2 separate regions of the Homo sapiens genome follow, and region 1 is linked to region 2. The links come from fine-mapping of genetic effects on plasma protein levels. A gene starts in region 2. The other region holds a variant in brackets. All regions are shown on one strand. Distances are from middle to middle.

Region 1 (5,387 bases), 25 kb before region 2:
GCGTGCACCACCATGCTCGGCTAATTTTTTGTATCTTTAGTAGAGTCGGGGTTTCACCATGTTGGCCAGGCTGGTCTTGAACTCCTGACCTCGTGATCCACCCACCGTGGCCTCCCAAAGTGCTGATTACAGGTGTGAGCCACCATGCCCAGCCATGTCATTTCATTTAAAGTCACAATTTCCATGAATCTCAACAAGTGAGGACCTGCTATATTTTGTTGCATGCAGTTTTTCTTTACGGACACTAAAAGGCCCCATACTTAAGATTCCATCTACTTTAAGTTTAAAGGATTTTCAGAATCACCTTAAGTGTCAAATTTGTTAGCAGGATTAATTGATATGAATTCACTTATTAAACAGTAAACTCAAATAACATAGACATCAAATAACAGACATCTGCTCTAGTTAATGATAAAATGTTTATAGATTTTATCAGGTGGTTAGTTTGAAACTAAATGGTTTACATCTAAATTAAGGGCAGGAGCTGTCTTTCAGACATTCAAAACGCATTTGTGTAAAATGACAGGTGTTTGGTATTACCAGGAACTCATAATGACATTTTAATAATTATTGTCTAAATTTCATAATCGAAGCGATTTTAGAGTAGTTAACTTGAGATTTCACAGCCAGTAAATGGCTGTATTTCTCCAGAGCTCTCAGCTCCCATGTTTATTCAGCCAACGAACAAACCAGACTGCAGACTGTATTAGAGCAAGACAACATCATTTAGCCATTGATTTTTATCTTCTACCTTGAATGAATTGAATGAAGAAAATGTCTTTTAGGGATAAACACTATCAAGGATGAATTTTATACTAAGGTTATATGAAAGAAAAATCTCAAAACCACTAAGCCAAAGGGAAGTCAAGCTGGGAACTGATTGAGGCAAACCTGCCTCCCATTTTATTCCTAAATAAGACAGCCACAAAGATAAAATTTGCTCACAAGGGAATTCCTTATGGACAAAGAACTCAAAGTCTTCACATGAAACAAATGCATAAATGATTGCTTTCTCTGTTTCATGTTTCACTAAGCCAGATTAAGGTATAACTGACTATTCCTCTACTCTCCTCTCACATGTAAATTGTATATTCAGTGAAAGGCTAATCAGAAACTCAAAAAAATGCAACCCTTTCTCTCTTACCTGCCTATGCTTGAAGCCCCCGCCCCTCTTCAAGTTGTCCTGCCTTTCAAGACCAATGTACACCTTACACATACTGATTGATGTCTCATGTCTCTCTAAAATGTGTAAAACCAAGCTGTGCCCCAACCACCTTGGGCACATGTGGTGAGGACCTCCTGAGGCTGTGTCATGGGCACACCTTAACCCTGGGAAAATAAACTTTCTAAACTGACTTGAGAGCTGTCTCAGATATTTTGAGCTTACAGTTATTGTGAAATCATTTTAATTATAAATTAAGTGGAGATTTACTTAAAATCATGTGTAGAAGTAGCCTGTGATATAGTCCTAGATACATACATTATCATCTTATGTATCTTCCCTCCCTCTTCCAGGTTCTGATAAAAACAGATGAAATCTGAAAGACCATGACAGTAGTATTTTGAAAATGACAGTATTTGAAATTAAAAAATTGTAAAAGTGTTCTGTTCTATCACTGCCAAAGGATAAGTTACAAATTGGTTCTTGGAACGTAATATGTACTATGTGCTTGCTATTTAATAATTTACCAGTCTTAGTCTTTTTTATTCAGACTAATTTTACCTTTTTTTAACCTATGACTCTTTAGTTATAGTAGTACAAAAAAGTAGTTTTAGTTATAGTTTTAGTTGTAGTACAAAAAAGCATTTTCTGTAAGCTTAATTTCTTTCCCCTTCCCGCTTTCCCAGTCAGATGACTTTAGTGATTTGGAGTTGTGTGCTTTATAAGTGCATTCCTCAGAGGACTTAATATTACTAAGATTTTAGCAAACACTGAAATATGTTTAAACACTGTTATCAATATTAAAATAGCACCGTTTATTGACTTTAATATGTGACAACCACTGTGCTGAGCTATGTATGCTTCCCTTATTCAATCTATGTAAAAATTTTGGGGAAGTAGCTGAGACTTTTTTATTTCCCTGACAGAGCTGGGATTCAGTGGTTGGTTTCTTGAAAAAGCTAGGTTCTTTGCCTAACAGCAGCTTAGCTCCTCAATTTAGGGAATGAAAGCAGGAATGAAAATGGCCAGAGTTTTCGCTCCTCAGCTTGTGGAGGAGCTTGAGTACATGAACCTCAACTAAGCCCCTAACATCAAGGGAAGGAAAATGGAAAGGAGAATTTTTAGACCTTTAAAGCAGAGAAATTACTGGTGAATCATGTAGCACAACAGGTACCTTTAGCTTTTTCACTGTGATGCTGTATGACTTTCTAAGGTAGTCAGCATAGTTTGTAGTAAATGATTCTTATTACTGGAAGTGTAAGTGGAGTGTTACTCACTAGTTATTTAAAAAACATTTATAAGGCTATTAAAACATCATCTGGAATTAAAGCAGCATAATTTACCCCATCCCCCACTTTTAACCATAAAACCCTATTACCAATTTTATTTCATTAATTTATTTGCTATTTTAATATTTTAAGAAACTACATTTTAATCACATAGACAAGCAGATAAGTAAGGCTTCTTCTACCAGGTGGGCTTATGAAATGCAAAATAAGCAAAAGGAGCATTTTTTTGCTCCCCACAGAGGCAAAGACATCTTTTAACCTAACTCTCCTAATGCATGATGGTAACAAACCCAAAATGAATGCAGGTTCACATGTACTATAATTGTTGGGAGTCGAATGCATGTATTCTTCAGGTTCACTTCTGGAAATTTAGATAACTTATTTATTACACGCTTTATTTGAGTTAAAGATAAAAAACAATATACTTTTATGTAAATTGCTATGGCAATGTAGTTTACAGTAATTCCTTTTATATATACTTCGTATTATTCTTTTAGACATTTTATAAGGAATAAAGCTAATTGTATATTAAGTTTAACAATAATCAGAAAATATTCTCCAAAAGAATTTCCTGAAGTGGCTTGCTAGGTATAAAGCTCATAATTGTCAAGATACTTATATTAGGGACATGAACCCAAGTCGTTAAATAAAAATAAGATATTTGTAAAAAAGTGCTATAGAAGAAGGTGCACAAAAAACATGCACTTACACATACTTTCCAAAAGGATGTAAACTGTACTTTTAGGCACTGTCATCTCTTCAAATTTCCTTTACCAATGATATATAGCACAATTTTTGATGTCTAGATGGTGCTGTAGGAAGATGACTAAGGCAACCACGTGCAGAAAAGCATGTGTGTGATGCACAGAAAATATAAAGATTGCATTCCAAAAGTGAAGGTCTGCA[A/G]TGATAGTTTGTTATCTGAAAGGTTTGGAGTGTCTTGTCATTAAAAAATGAAATATACGCCACTGGAGTCATATCACAAATGGTGCCTGATGTGGACACTCTACCTTTAAAATGACTTTTTAAACAGGCAGACATTTCTATGCTGTTTTATAGGTGGCTATGTGACTTCAGTACTTTATAATAAATAGCCAGTCAATCTTGAGAGCCAGCTACTTCTCTTAAACCCAAGTACAAGATATAAATATTCAAAATATGGAATGTTTAACATAGAGACTCGAATGAAAAAATGACAATCTTCAAAATTCCCCATGTTTTGTCATATTGCATAGCTGAAAATTCATCTACTACTTAGTAAAAAGTGCTCTGTTCATTCAAGCTGAATTTTGCTCCAGTCTCCTTCAGTTTCCATCTTTCATACTGAATAGTGGATCCACAAGTTTATTGTGCACATGCATTAGACCTTAAAGAAAAAAAGCACAGTTCTAGTTGTTTTTATTAATTTTGAACTATCTCATTTACTTTAGACAACAAAGTATTTTTTATAAGACACAGTAAGCCTGTTTAGTTCCCATCTTGATATAGTCAAGTTTATTGAAAAAGTACAAATAGAAATGTTTCAGAATGTCTTAAGTTTTATCTACCTAGCAAATACCAATTTATAATTATGTAACAGTGCAGATCTAGAATGTGTACAGGTACTTTGGGAGTAACCAGAAGAGCATTTCTTGTCTTCAAAGAGATTAAGCATGACAAATTTGAATACTGACTTAGATAATAGGTTTTAATTATATCTAAAAGTCTATGTTGATATTGATCCTCTGGCAGTTCCTCTACTAGACTCCAGCCAGGGGCTCAGAACTGCTGTCTCACTCTTAATACATTACCCTATCCATTCGTCTGGTAAATTACTTTCCAATAGTTTGGCATGTGTATTTATGACAAAGGTTGATTACAAATTCTACACTGAGGGAGGGTTACTAAAACAAGACAGAAAACAACCTGTATTAAATCATTTAATTCAGAATAGAAATTACGATTTTAAATCCGGTAGATTATAACTTTCATTTTGTAATTGGTACATATACTTGCAGACTGCTCTTAGCTATGGAAGCTGCTTGGGAAATAGCTGATCTTCCAGTTACTCCTGTTTTAATGCCTCAGTACTATATTTCTTTGGGGAGAAAAAAGTTCTAAAAAGACTGACCCAGTTAATGAACCAGAGATTTTATATTTTGGAGGGTAAAGAAATGAGTTAAGTTTTCCAGGTATTAAGAACATGGGAGGGTGGGGAAAGGCACTTAATGCGGTTTTGCAGGAAATGGGATTACTGGATTGGAGAGATAGGTTGCTTGTTAGTAAACAGATGTTCCTTGTCAGAAAGGCTGCAAAAAGGACTCTAAAATCCCAGCTTTGAGAAAGACCCACTTTTAAGGGACAAGCAAAGAGTACTGGGAAGTGTTTGTGTAGTAGGAGAAATTCTAACCATAAGAATGGGACTCTAAAGGAGGGAAGGGGGAAGCATTCCATTCACTAGTCCTGCAACTGCTCAACAGCCTACTTGAAGGTCACCTGAAACTTCATGTCCAGTAGGAGAGGGGACAACAAAGATAAGGGTAATATCAGCTGTATGATTTAGAAGATGCAACATTTTCCAGAGTATCACTTTGTAGAGGATCGTTTTTCTACTTAAATAGTATTCATCTGTCATTTGCTAACAACTTTGATTACGGAAAGAATACACAGAGCTTTAAAATACATGCAAATTAAAATATCAGTAAATATTAAAAATTCAACTCCTTTATAAAATTTTTTTCTTTACATTGGATATATCTTTTATACATCAAATAGGACTGCTTCCAAACTAGAAATAATTATTTTGAAAATTCTATTAATTGCTTTTTAGATATTAAGTCAAATATTTACTGTGACTTTAGGTAAAAACTGACAACTTTCTACATACGAATTTTATATAAATAAATAATTGCTACTTAAGTCAAACAGAAATAATTCTTCTGATAAAAATGCACCAG
Region 2 (5,387 bases):
GAACATTCTGTAATAATTCCCATAATTCTTAGATTTTTAATTCTTATTTTTATATTAAATGGATCAGTCACCAATACCAAGCTTTTTATAACATGGTTTCAGCATTCCTGAGTTTTGTACCCACACACTTTACATAGAGTAATAAGTCAAATTTTCTAAATTAATGAGATTAAAAGGTCTTATTAAAATAAATGTATGGAATCTAAATGTCTTTAAGAAGGTAACAGTTTCGAATTCTGACACAACAACAAAAAATCATGGTCACCATGATCTAGAATTCTGGCCCGATAACAATTATTTATTTACAGAAAATAAATTACATAGTAAGTCATAAATTCAGTCCAACAACTGGACTCAGCCTCCACTTAAATATAATCCATAATCTAATGTCAAAAACAATTTTAGAGTTAAACCAAAGAATCAGAAAGAATTATTGGCTGTAATGAACATCAAAAGATATATTTACTTCTAACAAGAATATATGGCCAGCTGATTGTTAATAAAACGGAAAAAAAATAAGGTAAGGAGGACGAGAAGCATTAGAGCTTTCCAATGTCTTCTGCATCCTGGGCATGTTATTTTTCTCAGTTCAACACACGTTTGAAGACCTATTATATTCTAAGCACTATGCTAGGTTCTGTAGACACAAAAATGATTAACTCTATTGTCAAAGGGCTTAGAATCACTTGTCTCTGAGGTTGAAAGCATTATTCTCACTCTTCATATACAGAAAACTGCAACTACGAGAAGTTTATTGCTGACGTTAAAAAGTGGCCCGGGGAGCTGGCTTTAAAACTAAGTGTTTCTGACTCAAAGAGACATTAGCCAAAGATGTCTTACCGGTTGAGAATCACTTACGATGCTAGTTAAAAATACAGATTCTCAGGTCCCTCTCCCTAGACACAGTGTTTCAAAAGATCTGAAATGAAGTCCAAGGAATCTCTGCTTTTGCAAATTATCACAGGGGATATTCATAATCAGGTGAAATTTGTTAAGAACACCACACATCTCACTGAAACGAAGTTTAAGCAAGTCTCTCAGACCAAGGTACAGGCAACTTTTTGTTTTCTTAAACTCTCTGGAGGGCGCAGAGTCACCTCCAAAAGTCCCAAATGAATCCCTTCACCCAGAGCAAAGAAGAATTTCTTCACCACATTTAAGTTTTTAAGATTTGACTTTTCCAGTTTTTGCCAATCCTCAGAGATCCAAACTATTGTCGCCTTATGCAATTCTCTGGCATCACAAGACAGCATCAAAAAACAACAGAGCACCACCCTTTCCCTCGTCTTCCTTCAGGTGCTGATTCATTTTGGATGTGCATCGCTAGGAAAAAGGGCTGCTGAATATAAATCGCAAAACTTCAATGGTGGATGACAACTTCTACACCCGTGAAGTTACACAGCTAGTTAATGGCGGGGCCAAGACCAGAATCTACACTTGCAGAACCTCTGCTCTGAGCTTTTCCCTACTCAACCTGACCTGTCCTGAAAGCGTAAGGGTGGCCTGGCCGCGCGTGTGGGACCGACCCGAGGAGGGACGAGAGACAGCAAAGAAGGCTGTGGTTCCTGCCCGGGAGGCGGGGGCTGCAGATTCCCCTCAGCTGCGCGTTTGCCTGGCCCTCACTTGGCAAAGGACAGCGAATGCAAATGAGGATGACTGTTAGGAATTTTTAACGAGTGTAGAGAGAGGTGTCAAGAAGAAGCCGCGAGAGAGGAGAGGGCAGGGACGCCTTCTCCCGTAGGCACAAATCCGGAGAGGACAACCAGGTCCGCGAGTGGCAATACGGGAGACCCCACGCGCCCCCAGCCTCGAGGTTCCTGAGCACCCATTCCGCCCCGGCCCGGCGTCCCAGTCTCAGCACAAAGGCCGCACAGGGCGAAGTTGCCGTCGGGTCCCCCGACCCGAGTCCCCTTCTTGGCGCCCCCGCCGCACCCCCCGCTAAACTTACCGGCAGACCCAATGGTTCTTCGATGCTGGAACAGCGGGAACAAGCAACACCCAACCACCCGAGAGCGACCCCAGCTGACCAGTGGAGCGCGAATCCCACGGACCCGGATGCAGATAAAGGCGCAGGAAGGAACCGCGGCGTGGCTGGCGGGCGCTGCGCATGCGCACCGCCTTTAGGACGCCTGAGGTGAGACGCGAGGAGTTCGGTCCGAGTGCGGTGCGGCTGGGCGCTCTTCTTGCCTGGAAGATCGCAGTTTCTGGGTCATCACTTTACGCTACTTTCCCCTCCCCCCCATCTTTCAAAGAGGGATTTGCAGTAGATTCTTTAGGCTTATGAGATTTAGTATGTAAGACCGTAGTGCTCACACGTACTTTGTTGCTTATGTTGCTGTTTGGCAACATGAATATATTTGCCATTTATGAATACATTTCTCTCTCTACTCCAAGCTATTGAATGCATATTTGCAAACGCAATGACAGATAAGCGTCTTGTGTCAAAAAACTCATCAAAGTTTGCAAAAGGGCAAACAGTACCATGGGAAATCGGGAGCGTCTCAGTAAGAGAAAACACTATATAATAGGGTACTGGCTTTTGCTGAATGAGTCTAAGAAAGGGATAGGGGAAGCTGGAATCAGCTTTGAGCTGGGTATCACAGATGTTTATACAGGAGTGGGAAGGAATTGGGCTGTGGAAATTATTGTAAAGAAAGCAGCTATCATTCAAAAGGAGAAAAGTGTGTTGTGTCTTCACCATGTTCCATCAGGAACACTGTTCCATTAATAACACCGTTTAGGGTTCTGTTAGGAACAATACAATCTTGACTCCTAGCCAACTTAAGGTTCTGTTTCTGTGGAAACTACAAGTTAAAAAAATGTAAAACGCTGTGTCCTCAAACTCGTTATATGAAGTTTTTCACCTGGGTTGTAAATCCAGCCTGCTTCTTTGAATGTAATGACTCCTCTTGCATCCTTTAGTGAAGAGTAGGATGTTACATTCTCGTTGATTTAGCTTCAAACAGCAACATTGCTCACATACTGATAATAGACAGGTTTATTAGTACTATCGCCTTCAGTAAGTTTGCAAAAGCGATTTTTGGCCAGATTCGGTGACTCACGCCTGTAATCCCAGCACTTTCAGAGGTCATGGTGCATGGATGGCTTGAACCCAGGAGTTGGAGACCAGCCTGGGCAACATAGCAAGACCCTGTCTCTCCAAAAAAGATTGAGGTAAAATGATGAAGTAGTTTGTAGGCTATGCATAGAATTTAGGCTTTGTATTGTAGGCAATAGGGAGTCACTTAAGCTTTATGAATTGAAGATAAGAGACTAGAACATACGTGTTTTAGAAAGAATGCTGTAGAAAGGTGGAGACTGAATTACAGTCTTGAATTACAGATATGTGCCACATAAGGAAGTTTAGGTAAAGAATGGACTGGATATTTGGCAATGGTCCCATAAGATTATAACAGAACTGAAAAATTCCTATCACCTAGCGACATTGTAGTAAACGTAAAGTTGTAGAGCAACACCACTCGTGTTTGTGGCTACATAGGTGTAAACCTACTGTGCTTCCAGTCTCATAAAAGTCTAGCACATACAATTATGTACAGGATATAATACTTGATAATAAATGACTATGTTACTGGTATATGTATTTGCTATATTATACTCTTTATCATTATTTTAGAGTGTATTCATTCTATTTCTATTTTTATTTTTATTTATTTGTTTATTTTTTTGAGACAGAGTCTCGCACTGTCACCCAGGCTGGAGTGCAATGGCACAATCTTGGCTCACTGCAACCTCTGCCTCCTGAGTTCAAGCAATTCTCCTGCCTCAGCCTCCTGAGTAGCTGGGATTACAGGCAGCTGCCACCACGCCCGTCTAATTTTGTTTTATTTTTAGTAGAGACGGGGTTTCACTTATTAGCCACGCTGGTCTCGAACTCCTGACCTCGTGATCTGCCTGCCTCGGCCTCCCAAAGTGCTGGGATTATAGGCGTGAGCCACCATGCTTGGCCCTATTTATATTTTTAAAAGTTAACTATAAAACAGCCTCAAGGAGGTCTTTCAGGAGGTATTCCAGAAGAAGGCATTGTTATTATAGATGAGAGCTCCATGTGCATTATTGCCCTGATGAACTTCCAGTGGGATAAGATGTGAAAGTGAAAGACAGGGAGATTGATAATCCTGACCTTGTGTAGGCCTAGGCTAACATGTGTGTTTGTGTCTTCATTTTAACAAAAAAATTTGAATAGGAAAAAAATTAAAAATAGATTTTAAAATAAAAAAACTTATAGAATAAGGATATAAAGAAACAAAATATTTTTGGACAGCTCTCCAATGTGTGTTTTAACCTTAACGTTGTTACTAGAGTCAAAAAGTTTTTTTTTTTTCTGAGACAGAGTCTCACTCTGTTGTCCAGGCTGGAATGCAGTGTCGCAATCTTGGCTGACTGCAAACTCTACCTCCCAGATTCAAGCAATTCTCCTGCCTCGGCCTCCCGAGTAGCTGGGACTACAGGCGCATGCCACCACACCCGGCTAATTTTTTGTGTTTTTAGTAGAGACGGGGTTTCACTGTGTTAGCCAGGATGGTCTCGATCTCCGGACCCCATGGTCCCCCCTCCTCAGCCTCCTATAGTGCTGGGATTACAGGCGTGAGCCACCACTCCCGGCCAAAAAGTTTTTTAAAAATTTAAATATAAAGTAAGAAAGCTACAGGAAATTAAATTTACTATTGAAGAAAAAAAACATCGTTTTATAAATTTAGTGTAGCCTAACTCTACATTGTTTATAAAATCTACAGTAGTGTACAGTAATGTCCTAGGTCTTCACATTCACTCACCACTCATTCACTGACTTACCCAGAGCACCCTCCAGTCCTGCAAGCTCCTTTCATGGTAAATGTCCTATACAGGTGTACTGTTAATATTTTTTAATTTTTATACTTTTTTTTTTACTATACCTTTTCTTTGTTTAGATATGCAAATATATACCATTGTGTTACATTGCTTACCGTATTCAGTAATATGCTGTACAGGTTTGTAGTCTAGGAGCAATAGGCTATACCATATATGTGTAGTTTGTGTATATATGCTAGGTTTGTGTGCATATACTGTATAACATTCACACTATAATGAAATCGTCTGAAGATGCATTTCTCAGAATGTATCCCCATAATTAAGTGATGCATGACTGTATGTTATGAAGACTCCAACACGGAACGACTCTGAGTGTACCTTGTATTTTTCCTACCCAGCCTTGGTATCAGGCATTTCACTAATAGCTGATAGTTGTTTTATTAATCAACAATGGATGTTGAATTTTGTCAAACACTTTCTATGTATCTATTGAAATGGTTGTATGGTTTTCCACTCTAATATGTTGGTGAATTCAATGTTGAGTGCACTTTTATTGCTGGAGAAAATTAGATTTGGTC

Direction of the effects. Alleles are on the strand shown, and positions count from the first base shown. The strength of an association depends on the size of the effect and on how common the allele is.
In carriers of allele G in region 1, the plasma level of the protein whose gene starts at base 2,031 in region 2 tends to be higher than with A alone (weak association).

What was found. PIP is the posterior inclusion probability: the model's chance that the variant is causal. Protein levels are from antibody-based Olink assays in UK Biobank. Linkage for the fine-mapping came from a reference panel and not from the study's own genotypes, which makes the PIPs less certain.
Region 1: its variant is fine-mapped to the plasma level of the GNPDA2 protein (UK Biobank, PIP above 0.99).

What each region holds. Positions count from the first base shown.
Region 1 is chr4:44,699,326-44,704,712 of GRCh38, forward strand. GUF1 (GTP binding elongation factor GUF1) reads left to right here. Exons shown (of 17, transcript NM_021927.3): 17 at 1-1,603. It overlaps GNPDA2 (glucosamine-6-phosphate deaminase 2), which reads right to left. Exons shown (of 7, transcript NM_138335.3): 7 at 2,470-3,817. The coding sequence ends at 3,756. Among named protein-coding and RNA genes, the nearest start is that of GUF1, 24 kb to the left of the region's middle. The variant A/G (reference allele first, on the strand shown) is at 3,358.
Region 2 is chr4:44,724,526-44,729,912 of GRCh38, forward strand. GNPDA2 (glucosamine-6-phosphate deaminase 2) reads right to left here and starts at 2,031. Exons shown (of 7, transcript NM_138335.3): 1 at 1,949-2,031. RefSeq lists a silencer at 1,447-1,741 and an enhancer at 2,234-2,363.